4 linked regions of the Homo sapiens genome follow. The protein of the gene in region 3 purifies or fractionates together with the protein of the main gene of each other region. This does not show direct contact. Each region holds a gene or a part of one and is shown on either strand. Other genes may lie near its edges.

The links.
Region 1: the proteins of CEP72 (region 3) and TBC1D4 purify together in Homo sapiens (affinity purification with mass spectrometry, with the first as the bait; one large-scale study listed by BioGRID). This does not show direct contact.
Region 2: the proteins of CEP72 (region 3) and AHCYL1 purify together in Homo sapiens (co-immunoprecipitation; 3 studies listed by BioGRID and IntAct, with this or other methods). This does not show direct contact.
Region 4: the proteins of CEP72 (region 3) and CEP295 purify together in Homo sapiens (co-immunoprecipitation; one large-scale study listed by IntAct). This does not show direct contact.

What each region holds. Positions count from the first base shown.
Region 1 is NC_000013.11:75,283,170-75,286,669, reverse strand, and holds the end of TBC1D4 (TBC1 domain family member 4), read left to right. Parts: 3' UTR 1-3,167; downstream 3,168-3,500.
Region 2 is NC_000001.11:110,019,265-110,022,764, forward strand, and holds part of AHCYL1 (S-adenosylhomocysteine hydrolase-like protein 1), read left to right. Parts: intron 1-283; coding exon 284-362; intron 363-1,466; coding exon 1,467-1,587; intron 1,588-2,409; coding exon 2,410-2,416; coding exon of another isoform or gene 2,417-2,462; 3' UTR 2,463-3,500. UniProt on the Homo sapiens protein: Multifaceted cellular regulator which coordinates several essential cellular functions including regulation of epithelial HCO3(-) and fluid secretion, mRNA processing and DNA replication.
Region 3 is NC_000005.10:636,340-639,839, forward strand, and holds part of CEP72 (centrosomal protein of 72 kDa), read left to right. Parts: intron 1-1,177; coding exon 1,178-1,479; intron 1,480-2,749; coding exon 2,750-2,885; intron 2,886-3,500. UniProt on the Homo sapiens protein: Involved in the recruitment of key centrosomal proteins to the centrosome.
Region 4 is NC_000011.10:93,724,182-93,727,681, forward strand, and holds part of CEP295 (centrosomal protein of 295 kDa), read left to right. Parts: intron 1-72; coding exon 73-194; intron 195-1,469; coding exon 1,470-1,650; intron 1,651-2,794; coding exon 2,795-3,456; intron 3,457-3,500. UniProt on the Homo sapiens protein: Centriole-enriched microtubule-binding protein involved in centriole biogenesis.

The DNA.
Region 1 (3,500 bases), on a different chromosome or scaffold from region 3:
CGCCTAGTCACAGCAGGTGGACCTCGTGCTCATCAGAGCATGCCAATCCTAAGCCATTGGACATATGTAGACTGGTTTTTGTTGTTGCTATGTACATATAAATATATATATAAAATGAACATAGTTCATGCTTTCAGATAAAATGAGTAGATGTATATTTAGATTAATTTTTTTAGTCAGAACTTCATGAAATCCACACCAAAGGAAAGGTAAACTGAAATTTCCCTTGGACATATGTGAAATCTTTTTGTCTTTATAGTGAAACAAAGCCAGAGCATCTTTGTATATTGCAATATACTTGAAAAAAATGAATGTATTTTTTTCTCCAAAGAACAGCATGTTTCACTCAATGGTGAAAAGGTGGAAACATTTATGTAACTTTATGTGTATCTGTCTTGATATCTACTGACATTGTCTATATGAGGAAAATGATTACTGGTCATGCTCCTGTGAGTTTTTTGGGAAGGTAGGGTCATTTCTCCCTGCCTGCTTTGTGCCAACTAGCATGTTGCATCTACATGCATTATGAGTCTGGTTAGGCATTACTTTAAACATACATAAAGAGACAGTAGGACATTGTGGCTGAGTCTACCCAGCTCAAGGTAAAGGAGAATGTTGCTAATTTTTTAGCAAACTAGACCAGCATTATTACTCAAACTAAAAATATCACACCTGAAAAATTTAATTTAGGACCTAAAATGTCTAGATTAGCTTTCTGCTTTTTTTATTTGAATAACTCATTCAGTTGTGAATGAATTCCTCTTTATTTGGTGCCACAGTCACCAAATGACAAGGATTTGCCACTTTCCCACCAAATTGTGAGTGCTTGTAATTTAGGTCTCTCTACCTTAAATTCAGTATAAGGAAACGTAATTATGATTGATTTTTTCCAAAGATGACAAGCTGTGTTGAAATACATTTTTTCTTTTGACCAATTGACAGAATCTAATAAGCTTTAATAATCTTCCCCTTTTATGTGAAAAGTTTTGAGAACTGTGAAATGTTTAGGAACAAACTGTTGAAATCCATTGGAAGGGAAAAAAGAAAGTGGTACCAGTGTTACCAGCTCAACTAAAACCTGCAATTCTGCATTTCAACTCTTCACTTCCTCAGCCTACAAATAGCTCATTAGATGACATTCACGCATGCTGGGTATAGGCAAGGAAAGTAATTTTCAAAGTACATTTGCAGTTCTCTTTTTCAGAGATGATTCTATGATAGTGCCTCTGAAAGTTGATGCAGCATTTTTGCCTTTCCAAAAAGTATTTATCCTCACTGCTTTTTGCAGTACTTGTATTTTCACAGATGGATTATCTGGGGTAATTTTCTTCAAAGGGAGTTTGTTATACACAGTGAAAATGTATTATAGAGTAGAATAGTAAAGCTCTAGGGGTTTCAGAAAGCTTTGATGAACAGATGACAAACATCTGAAACCCCCTCCGCACTGTTACCCAGTGTGTATATAATGACTTGTTATAGCTCAGTGTGCCCTTGAATCCATACAGTTTCTTAAAAGACAATAAAATCTTATTAATAAAGTTAATGTAACTTCTAAGTTCTAGAAAATGCTGATTCTGTCTGCCCCATTCAATTGGGGGCTACTAATTGATTTGTTGCTTGGATTTCCTGAGAATTTCTCTATTTGTAGGAGGGGTTTTTTCTTTTTACGGTCTGTTGATGACAATTACTTTATGGGTGTGATGCACCGATGGTAGCCAAGGAATCTGTTGGGGAAGTTCGGAAAGAAACCTTTTCTTTCTTTTATTCAGTTTAAAGTAAACTTTATCCTGGATGTTTAGAATCAACATTAAGAGTTATATTATGGTGTTCAGAGATTAAGCTGACTTGGATACAATATTTTCTTTTGAAAATGAATTTTCTTTTTCATTTGTGATTTTTAAAAAATGTTGCACCAGTTATGCTTCATGCATCGTTACATCTTCATCAGGTTAATGTAATGTCTAGTTCCTTTGCAATAAATATATTGCTGCAGCTTTCTTGACGTATACTGTTACTTTTCGGGAGAGAAGCAGCTCTTGGTTAGAGTCTTTTACTGCAGGGGTCCCTGGGTACCTGTCTGTGGCCTGTTATGAACCAGGCTGCACAGCAGTGGTGGGCATGCGAGCAAGCATGACTGCCTGAGCTCTGACTCCTGTCAGATCAGCCACGGCATTAGATTCTCATAGGAGCGCAAACCCTATTGTGAACTGTGCATGCAGGAGATCTATGTTTTGTGTTCCTTAAGAGAATCGAATGCCTGATGATCTGTCACTGTCTCCCATCATCCCCAGATGGGATCGTCTAGTTGCAGGAAAACAGTCAGGGTTCCCACTAATTCTACATTATGGTGAGTATATAATAATAATATGGTGAGGATATAATAATAATAATAGAAATAAAGTGCACAATAAATGTGCTTGAATCATTGAATCATCCTGAAACCATCCCCTGCCACCAGTCTGTGGAAAGATTGTCTTCCATGAAACCAGTCCCTGGTGTCAAGAAGGTTGAAGACCGCTGCTTTACAAGATCTGCATGGTGAAACCCCATCTCTAGGGAAAATACAAAAATTAGCCAGGCGTGGTGGTGTGCATCTGTAATCTCAGCTACTCAGGAGAGTAGGAGAGGCATATATTGCTACTTATAGGAGGCTGGAGAATAGTTTGAACCTGGGAGGCGGAGCTTGCAGTGAGCTTGCAGTGAGCCATCATGCCACTGCACTCTAGCCTGGGCCACAGAGTGAGACTTTGACAAAAAAAAAGAAAAACAAACAACCAAACAAAAAAGATCTGCATGGTTTGGATTGTACCTACTTAAAATTGCTACACAAATAATTCTTCCTAATAGAGTCAGACAACAAAGATAATTTAGGAGACATTTATGTAAGTACATTGTTACCATTTTTCAACTTACTTTCTCAATGGAGACTTTTGAAAGAAAAATATAAGCAACCACATTGACAGATTTGCATTCTACCCTTTTATTTTCCAGGCCCCCTCATAGATAGCAAGGGAGAGAGAGCCACAAGAAAATACAAAATTTTCCAACTGGACGCAGATAATTAAGAATTAAGGACATTTACTGATGGATGTGATATGAATGTTTTTATATAAAATATGCATCTCTTGGAGTATTCTCATGTATATTTGTAATCCAATAAAAATACACTGTATCTTCTTGCTAACTTTAGGACTAACACTTTTAACTATTTTTTGCTTAATGTAGTAGTTAAGCATTTTGAGAAGGAGGCACTGTAGGCTTAATAGTACAGTCTCTTAATATCCATGTTGACTTTTACCCATTTTGTCACTATTTCACCAATTATTTTTTCACAGTACCAGATTAGGAGTAAGAAATCTACCATCTGATGGCATGAAGTATTTAGTCCTTCTACCATGATGTGACACTCTCATTATATTACTCATTAGCTGTGATATAATGAGAAAAGCACGGGATTTAGGGTGAGAAGTTTTATATCTGTGTCTTGGTTCCACCACTTT
Region 2 (3,500 bases), on a different chromosome or scaffold from region 3:
TAGAAAAGAGTCACTAAGTCAGTATTCGTTGAATTGGCTGTTTTAGTTGAGAATATAATGTTCCAGCTTAGTTTTATTTGATTTGTTCTTTCGTTAGGAACTAAACAAAAACAACAAATCCTCTTAGGATGTGTGCTGCCCTTTAGTATAGGCAAAGTCCTAGGTACTGTGACTGTGGTAGATCACTGTAGTACTTACCCAAATGCTGTTTAACCTGGTTTTATTTTTATGTGCCTGTCTAAGAAATATTTTTGTGCTTTCTGGCCTTCTTTTCCCACCTTAGGCTTTGGCACTGATAGAACTCTATAATGCACCCGAGGGGCGATACAAGCAGGATGTGTACTTGCTTCCTAAGAAAATGGGTGAGTGAAAAACAGTGGAAATCTATGCAGACAGCTGCATAGTTTGGTAAAATGACTGCCATGAAAGGCATTGGATTTAGAGTCAGAGTTCCAATTCCTGTTCCTGTGCTTACTGGTTGTTTGACCTCAGGACAAGTTCTAATCTCTATGATCCTCAGTTTCTTGATTGGTAAAATGAAAATAATACTACATACATTGTAGAATTGTGTGAGAATCACAGCTAATGAGTAACAGTGCTTAACACAATGGTTTAGGGAGATGTTCTTACTCTAAGTAGCCTTATGAAGTTCAGTAAACTTCCCAGTGCAGCTGAGTACATACAGCCTTGGAACAAAATGAGAGAAACAAACACAGGTTTTATTGTCCATTTTCTGTGAGGATATGCAAACCATCCAATCTCTTGTAAGCAACCCATGCTGTGTTCATGTGACATAATACATCATCTCTAGTCCTTTGCCTTTCTGCACGGTGTACCCATCTCCCATATCTCCTTGGCTAGCCCAAATCCCTGACTTCTTAATGCTAAAATACTTCTTGCTCTCCTCTCCTCCAATAGCTTACTTCAGACTTTTTTTTCAGTGTATAATTATAAAAGGGAAGCTTATCTATGGAAAAGTAAAAATTCTGTGCCGACTACCTTAGAAATTCATGATCCTAAGATCCATGGATCTTATCCTAAATGAGTGTTATTGACACAGGGTCTTTCTAGCTTACTGGTGTCCACTTTGATTGCTAATTTGACTATAATCTAGTTAAGGAGGTTGCTGCAGGAAGGTAGGAGTAGCATGTGACATGTGGGCCACTGCAGGGAAGCCCCCTGCTTTGCCAGAGAAGGATAGAGAGGTAAAAGCCCACTCCCTTTTGTTACCCTGGTAAGTGGCTTTTCTGAACGCACTGTACATGTGCTGAGAGAAGCATCCTGCCCAGAAAGGCAGCTTTGAGGTTTTTTTTTTAATTAAGCAAATATTTCAAGTTGTGGATTCTTTCAGAGTTATTCCATCCCTTGTCTGCTTTCTTAAAAAAGCTTCAAATGAAAATGGGAAGTTATAACTTGAGAGACATTTTGAAAAGGAGTCTGCTCTCCTGCCACTTTGCTCTTCCTAGATGAATACGTTGCCAGCTTGCATCTGCCATCATTTGATGCCCACCTTACAGAGCTGACAGATGACCAAGCAAAATATCTGGGACTCAACAAAAATGGGCCATTCAAACCTAATTATTACAGGTAACCTGGGGAGAAGCAAGTGAAAAGCTCTTTTTCCCAGTATTAAACCAAGCAGGCTAGCCTGCTTCTGACATAAAGATCAAATGTTGTACCTGATTTTGAAGAATACAAGAAATCTGTTCCAGGCCAGGCACGGTGGCTCACGCCTGTAATCCCAGCACTTTGAGAGGCCTAGGCGGATGGATCACTTGAGGTCAGGAGTTCAAGACCAGCCTGGCCAACATGGCGAAACCCTATCTCTTAGCCGGGTGTGGTGGCGGGCACCTGTCATCCCAGTTACTCAGGTGGCTGAGGCACGAGAATCACTTGAACCTGGGAGGCGGAGGTTGCAGTGAGCTGGGATCATGCCACTGCACTCCAGCCTGGGTGATGGAGTGAGACTCTGTCTTAAAAACAAACAAACAAACAAAAAAACTGTTCCAGTTAACAAGGTAGATAGAGAAATTGTGGGAGATATCAGGGAGTTAGGGTTTTTTTGAAATTTTGGAGCCTGGGCCTCACCCTAAGAGATTCTGATATATTTGGTCTGCGATGGGACCAAATTTACAAAACATTATTTTGTAAAACCTCCCCAGATTATTGTAATGTTTAGTCAGGGTTGAAAAAACACTGACTCATTCCTGGGAACAGGCGGTAACACCAGAAATGGCATTGTCAGAGACCCTGTGGAAGAATAAGGGAGACTGGTGCCCTGGGGAATGACTGCAGGGATCCCACCCAGGCTGGGGAGGGGCCCTGGAGAAGGTGCTCTGTTTCCGATTGTTTTTTGGAATTCTCATATGGAAGACATAAGTGTTAACCAATCACTCTCTCTCTTTACAGATACTAATGGACCATACTACCAAGGACCAGTCCACCTGAACCACACACTCTAAAGAAATATTTTTTAAGATAACTTTTATTTTCTTCTTACTCCTTTCCTCTTGATTTTTTTCCTATAATTTCATTCTTGTTTTTTCATCTCATTATCCAAGTTCTGCAGACCACACAGGAACTTGCTTCATGGCTCTTTAGATGAAATAGAAGTTCAGGGTTCCTCACTCTAGTCACTAAAGAAGGATTTTACTCTCCCAGCCCAGAAAGGTGATTCTTTCTTTACCATTTCTGGGGACTTTAGTCTTAATTAGGTACCTTATTAACAGGAAATGCTAAGGTACCTTCTCTGTGGAACAATCTGCAATGTCTAAATCGCCTTAAAAGAGCCCATTTCTTAGCTGCTGAAATCAGTGCTCTTTCACTTCTTCAGAGAAGCAGGGATGGTACCTACCCGGCAGGTAGGTTAGATGTGGGTGGTGCATGTTAATTTCCCTTAGAAGTTCCAAGCCCTGTTTCCTGCGTAAAGGTGGTATGTCCAGTTCAGAGATGTGTATAATGAGCATGGCTTGTTAAGATCAGGAGGCCCACTTGGATTTATAGTATAGCCCTTCCTCCACTCCCACCAGACTTGCTCATTTTTCGAGTTTTTAACTAGACTACACTCTATTGAGTTTAATTTTGTCCTCTAGGATTTATTTCTGTTGTCCAAAAAAAAAAAAAAAGAAAAGAAAAATTAAGGAGAATTTTTGGTGTTAATGCTGAGGAATTGCTTGAGTGGTTAGTTGTTACCAATTTCTCTTTTGAACCTTTGGAGCTAAGGATGCTGAGTCTAGAGAAATGCTAGTCTCAAGCCCTGTTAAGTCCCTCTGTTTCTAGCCCGTAGTTCATAGCATCAGTGAACTGGAGCCACAACAGCAAATTCTATCAGCTGTGTACCATACAGCTTGTGCTGAAGGCGAATTTCTTGAGCCATTACTCAGTATAAAGCACTGAGTTCTATCTTTAGGATTTATCTTTAAGAGCAAATTTCTGGTCAGCTGTGCTTCTGCAACCTAAAATATTTAAAGGGAGGTAGGTGTGGGCAGGAGGAGGAATGA
Region 3 (3,500 bases):
GTGTGTGTGTGCACACCCTCCCTCACCCTCTCACTAATGCACACACACTTTTAAGTGTATGGGCCCAGGTTATGGCAATAGCTACATTTTGAAAATCAAAGGCGAGAAAAGTTAACCAAGAGTGTCACGTGATACCATGTGATGGCCACCTATGTGGCATAAGTATCAGAAAACCTCCTGCCGTGAGCAGGCCAGACACGGTGGCTCACGCCTATAATCCCAATATTTTGGGAGGCCGAGGCAGGCGGATCATTTGAGGTCAGGAGTTTAAGACCAGCCTGGCCAACATGGTGAAACCAGGTCTCTACTAAATATACAAAAATATCTGGGCATGGTGGCGGGCACCTATAGTCCCAGCTACTCAGGAGGCTGAGGCATGAGAATCGCTTGAACCTGGGAGGTGGAGGTTGCAATGAGCCTAGATGGCATCACTACACTCCAGCCTGGGCAATAGAGCAAGACTCCAACTCAAAAAAAAAAAAAAAAAAGAAAAAGAGAAACCTTGTCTCGCGTGACCCTGGCGCCTCCTGGAAGCTTGCTCATGCCCAACTGGTGAGAGGCAGGGGACCTAGCCAGGTTGTCTGTCAGCCGCTGCAGGATGTGATGGGTCATCTTGAGTTGAGCAGGCTGTGGTGGAGGCCAAGGCTGTGCCCGTTTTGTGCCTTCTCCTGCCTTCATTGTCCTTCCACAGACAAGTTTGCCTTCCCCCGGGTCTTGTGTGTCCTGGGGGCTTAGTGGTCGGTACAGTGCACGGGACCCACCACTTTACGGACCATCAGAGTCTGTCACTTCACCTGTCTTCAGAGATGGGCGTGTGCTTAGACGTTGTTTGGAACGCGTTGTTGAAGCGTACTGCACGTCGGTCATCACGGGGTGAACACGCGAAGCTGGGCGGTCCGTGTCTGCTTCATCCAGACTCCCCCAGAGTTTGCGTGTTAGCACGTGTGCCCCAGTATGCCCCTTTCTTCCCTCGGCACCCTCCCTCTGCATGTGCCTTTGTGCAGGTGTATGGATGTATGTATGCACGTGGATAGGTGTGCGTGTACATATGTAAGTGTGCGTGTGTGTCCATGTGTGTATATACATGGGCACACACATGCCTTTTAAAAGTTACAGTGCTGAACACTGCACCCAGAGAATTTGGCCTGACGTGCGCCCCATCCTCTCTATATCTCAGACTCCATGGATACCGAGGACTCGGCCTCTTCTCAGAAGTTGGATTTGTCAGGAGAAATGGTGCCTGGTCCCCTGCCAGCCCCCGGAAAGTGCAGGAAGCGAAGAATGCCTGTTGGAAGATTCCAGACGTTTTCGGACCAGGAGGGTTTGGGCTGCCCGGAGAGAACTCATGGGTCCTCCGTGCCCAAGGAGAGCCTGAGCAGACAGGACAGCTCAGAAAGCAGGAACGGGAGGACCTTGTCTCAGCCTGAGGCCTCGGAGACTGAGGAGCAGAGGTCTCGGGGTGTGACCGACACCAGAGAGGTGAGAGAAGGGCTGGGGAGCAGCAGGCCCACGGCACTGCCTCCCTAATGTGGGGCTGTTACGGCTTTGGCGGGGCCGTGATTACGCCTGCGGCACTGACTGTGTCCCTCCCTGATGCAGGGCTGTTACGGCGGTGCCGTGATTACGCCTACGGCACTGACCGTGTCCCTCCCTGATGCGGGGCTGTTACGGCTTTGGCGGTGCCGTGATTACGCCTACGGCACTGACCGTGTCCCAGGATAAAGGGAATCATCACACTTAGGGTTCCAGGGTGCTTGCTGCTGCGTTTTGTTGGACGTGTGCCTCTGTGCCACACGCTGTCCTGCGCTGCTGTTCTGAGTGGAAGCCCCGTGGTGGAGAGAGGGGACTCTGCCTTACGGTGCACAGGGCATTTGTCTCCAAAGCTGGAATCGGGCATCTTGGCCGGCTGAGCCATTGATGACCCTTTCGTGAGGGGAGGATCCTGGAGGTCGCTGTGATGAGAGACCGAGTCACTCCACCCTCAGGGTGACCTAGAGGTCAGGGGGACAACTGGCGCAGGCCCAGTCAGAGGCGTTGAGACACACCTGCTGTAGACATGAGTGCAGACCACCCAGAAGGGAACAGGCAGGGGCTGTTCACTTGGTACTTGCCACAACGAGGGCTTCAGACTCCCATGCAGGCAGAGGAGCTTGAAGGTGCGGAACTGTGGGACAGGAAGGGAGGCATGGCCGGAGCTAGAGGCAGCTCCGTAGCAGCATGGGGTGGGGGGGGGTCCCAGAGCTGGGTGGGGCGTGTTTGACGTCCCCGGCAGGTCCTGAGCTGGAAGGAGGCAGAGATGGGGGAGGTGGGCGGTCTGTTTCAGGGTTATTGTTTGACTCCGGGCCATTGCTGGGGACAGCGCCTGGCACCCTCTACCAGCCTGACTGTGGGTGCAGGCTGCTTCCTGGGCAGCTCCTTTTGAACACAGGCTCTGACTGCGGCCTGGATGTGTCTTCCGCTTCCCTGTCTGGGTTGAGGGGAGGAGTCTGGGGCCTGCTTGAGTTGGGAATGTGTGGGCCCCGTCCTGTCCTGTCATCGAGACCTCACTCATCCAGGACCGGTGCACCTGGCTAAGCCTCACTGGGCAGGCACTGCTGAGCCGCCCTCCACCTGGCTCAGGGCTGGGGCCTCAGGGCACCTGTCCTCCCCTTCGTGGTGCGAGGGCATCCCAGGGTGCGCTTGGGCACCTGCTGGCATTCAGGACCTCAGTTACTGACTCGCTGGCCTCATGCTGTTGTTTCCATCACAGCCGTCTCCCGGGTCACACTCGGCTCTACCCGGGAAGAAGACGGCCCTGCAGGCGGCGCTCCTGGAGACGCTCTTGGACCTGGTGGACAGGAGCTGGGGCGGCTGCAGGTCCCTGCACAGCAACGAGGCATTCCTTGGTGAGTCAGGGCGGCCACTGCTCTTGCCCTGTAGGCAGCGTCTGTGTGGGTTCCGGGGTCCTCTGCGTGTGGTGACCTAGGAGTCATCTCAGCCCCAGGTCTCCTATGTCCCCTCCCACGAGCGTGTGGTGGTCCCGCGCCTGGGCCCTCCCTGGCAGTCTTTGCATCTCACAGTGTCCAGGGCTCTCGGGAGACACCACATGGGCCTGGGCCTGTGGGTCCCCCGCTGTGCTCTGGGGTGTTGGGGGGCCTGTCACCTCATTTTGCTCAAAATGCTGTCCAAAGGGGCTTGGTTCTGATGGCTGTGATCACATGGGGATTTGGAGTTTGGAAGCTGCTCAGCATCTTCTCCCCCGACCCAGACGTGTAGCCTGTGCTGGGCCTGGATTGCAGAGCTTTTGGTTGGTGTGGGACCCAGGAGGGTGGTCCCTCCCCAGAGAGGACTTGGGTCTGTTGGATTCTACCAGGCAACCCGTACATGAGCACACTGGGGCCTCCCTCATCCAGGATCACACTGGGAGACCAGGAGATGCCGCGTCCCCAGGGGCACCTTCTCTTTGTCCTGCATCCTGGGGTGTGGCTGTGTGTGTCCCTCAGGAGCCTAGCCAGTGTGCT
Region 4 (3,500 bases), on a different chromosome or scaffold from region 3:
AGTGTTTACCTTAAAAATAAATTTATGATTTTTTTCCCTCAAAAATTCTAACAGTTGACCTTGACTTTCCAGAATTGGAACACATTTTTCCTAATTTGCATCATCAGCTGTTTAAACCCTTAGAACCACATCCAGATTTTGACTTATCATCATCATCCTCTGGGATTTCTCCAGACAACAGAGACTTTTACCAGGTATATTAAAGTAGATGTCCCATTGCAGTGAATATCTAAAAATAGTTTTAAGCCATTTCTTCTACTGGAACAAAAGTTCTTCTAAACCCTTACCTAGAATCACATGGAAGTCTGGGCACAGTGGCTCACACCTGTAATCCCAGCACTTTGAGAGCCCAAGGCGGGCAGATTACTTGAGGCCAAGAGTTCGAGACCAGCCTGGCCAACATGGCAAAACCCTGTCTCTACTGAAAATACAAAAATTAGCCAGGTGTCGTGGTGCGCACCTGTAGTCCCAGCTACTCGGGAGGCTGAGGTGGGAGGACCACTTGAGCCCAGGAGGTGGAGGCTGCAGTGAGCTGAGATCGTGCCACTACACTCCAGTCTGGGTGACAGAGCCAGACCCTGTCTTTAAAAAAAGAAACAAACAAACAAACAAAAAGAATCACATGGAAAACTTAAATAAAAAATAAAAATAAATCCTATTGTCCAGACTACACCCTAGACCAATTAAAGCAGAGTTTCTGGGAGTGCTCAGATAGTACTAATTATTATTATTATTTTTTAAGCTCCCCAAGTGATTCTAATGTGGAACCAACTTTGAAAACAGCTGCATTGGGCCGGGTGCGGTGGCTCATGCCTGTAATCCCAGCACTTTGGGAGTCTGAGGCAGGTGGATTGCTTGAGGCCAGGAGTTTGAGATCAGCCTGGCCAACATGGTGAAATCCCATCTCTACTAAAAAACACAAAAATTAGTTGGGTGTGATGGCATGCCTGTAGTCCCAGCTACTCGGGAGGCTGAGAACCGCTTGAACCTGGGAGGCAGAGGTTGCAGTGAGCCGAGATCGTGCCACTGCACTCCAGCCTGGACAACATAGTGAGACCCCATCTCAAAAAAAAAAAAAGGAAAACAGCTACATTAGAATTTTGTTTGTCCCATCCACCTGTCTCCACCTAGGGAGTATGATGCCATAAAAGGCTTAATAACAACTTTTAGTTGTGGAACATATTTAAACAGTAAAGTAAATACAATTTTGCAAAATTTAAAGTATCCTCCTACACAGTCAAAGGAGCTGAGATTTAAACCTGAGTCTTTTTGCTTCCACTTCCTGATGGCCTGACATTTTAAAGTCTCTTTCATATTGATTGAAAAGAACTGGATTTGAAAAAGCAAATCATTGCTGTCATAGTGAAGTGATAATTAAGGAAGAGTAATACCAAAGGAACACAATGATTATTGTTTCAATTGTTAATACCTAATCAGTATTTCAGCCTTTCCCTTTTGTTTCCTGCCAGAGATCAGATTCTTCATCTGAAAGCCACTGTGCTACTGGATTATCCAAAAGTACAGTTTATTTCACAGCACTGAGGAGGACCAGCATGCATTCTTCTCTTAACACAAGTCCGAATCAACAACCTGACACTAACTTGGCTCATGTTGGAGCTCACAGTTTTGCTACAGAAAATATTATTGGGGGTATGTATGACTAAGTTAGAAAAAGTTAATTTTTCCATGATTTTTTACATCCATTTCCTTAGAAATTAAGCCTAGCACCTCTTGGTTTGTCTTCACCCCTGCTCTCACCCCTATCCTGGGTGTTAAAAAATATTTAAATTACAGAAGTAATACATGCATTTTTTTAAACAATACTGAACATTATGAAATAAAAGGAAAAGTGTTGCCTCTTGTTCCTCAATTTCCCTACCTCAATCATTATGTGATAGTTAACAGTTTAAGTATTATTTTTTTGTTTGTTTTTTTTGTTTTTGTTTTTGTTTTTATTTTGTTTTTGAAGACTGAGTTTCACTCTTGTTGCCCAGGCTGGAGTGCAGTGGTGCAATCTTGGCTCACTGCAACCTCCGCCTGCTGGGTTCAAGTGATTCTCCTGCCTCACTCAGCCTCCCAAGTAGCTGGGATTACAGGCATGTGCCACCACACCCAGCTAATTTTCTATTTTTAGTATAGACAGGGTTTCACTATGTTGGTCAGGCTGGTCTAGAACTCCCGACCTCAGATGATCCACTCGTCTTGGCCTCCCAAAGTGCTGGGATTACAGGTGTGAGCCACCATGCCCAGCCAGTTTAAGTATTCTTCTTAGGCCAAGTATAGTGGCTCACGCCTGTAATCCTAGCACTTTGGGAAGCTGCGGCAGGAGGATCCCTGGAGCCCAGGAGTTCAAGACCAGCCTGGGCAACATAGAAAACAAGTATTCTTGAGCCTTTGGTACAAATGATTATATATACACACAAACATACATGAGATACACAAGGATGTACAAATTATATATACACACATGGATAATTGAGATACACATGGATGCTTTATTCTCTTTTCTGTTATTAAAGTCATATTCAGTTCTTATAGAGGAAAACATCCTCAGTTTATAGCCATATTGTCCTTATTAAATATTAATAGAAAAAGAAAAAATACTTGGTGTGAGCTGTAGTTTGAGAAATCACTGTGACCATCCTTATCTTTGTATTCATGTTTATACACATCAACTTTTATGCCTAAAATTGTAGGTTACTTGCAATTGGATGATAAACTATTAGAGACTGTCAGTATCCAACTTTTACAACATGTAACGATGATTAACTGATTTTTGAATTTCTTAATGCAGGATCTGAACAATGTTTTGAACAGCTTCAGCCAGAATATTCTTCACAGGAGGAGAGCCAGCATGCTGATCTACCAAGTATTTTTAGCATTGAAGCAAGAGATTCTTCCCAAGGCATGAAAAATCAGAACTATCCCTCTGAAGAACATACTGAAATATTACAAAACAAGAAAAAAATTGTTCATTTCCAGCTTTCTATAGGAAACTTAAGTTCAGTCTACAGTTCATCTGATGAAGCTAATGTATTTGATCAGTTAAATGTACAGCATAGCACTCCATGTGGTTCTAACTCTAGTGAGTGCTCAACAAAACACCAACTAGAAAGCAGAAAGGAAAGTATGGGCTTTGAAGAACTATCAAAAAGAGGGGTTGTTACAATGTTACAAAGTCAAGGACTCATTGAAGATAATAAAAATGAAACCTGTAGGGTTTTAGACATAAATCCACAGGTAGAGGAAACTGACTCTCGATTATGTGTAAGAACAGTGGAGATGGGAACTTCAATTCAGGCACCATATTCCTTAACTACTCAAAATGAAAAATATTTTGAGAATTCAGCTGAAACAGACATTCCAAAAATCACCAAAAAACTATCTCAACTAGGAGAATCAGAGCTTTTTGCAAGTTCTGGATCATTTTCATTACAGAGCTCTATACCAGTCTGGGTAAGTGAAATCAGTGTTGTATAAATAACATTTAAATTCCTTTT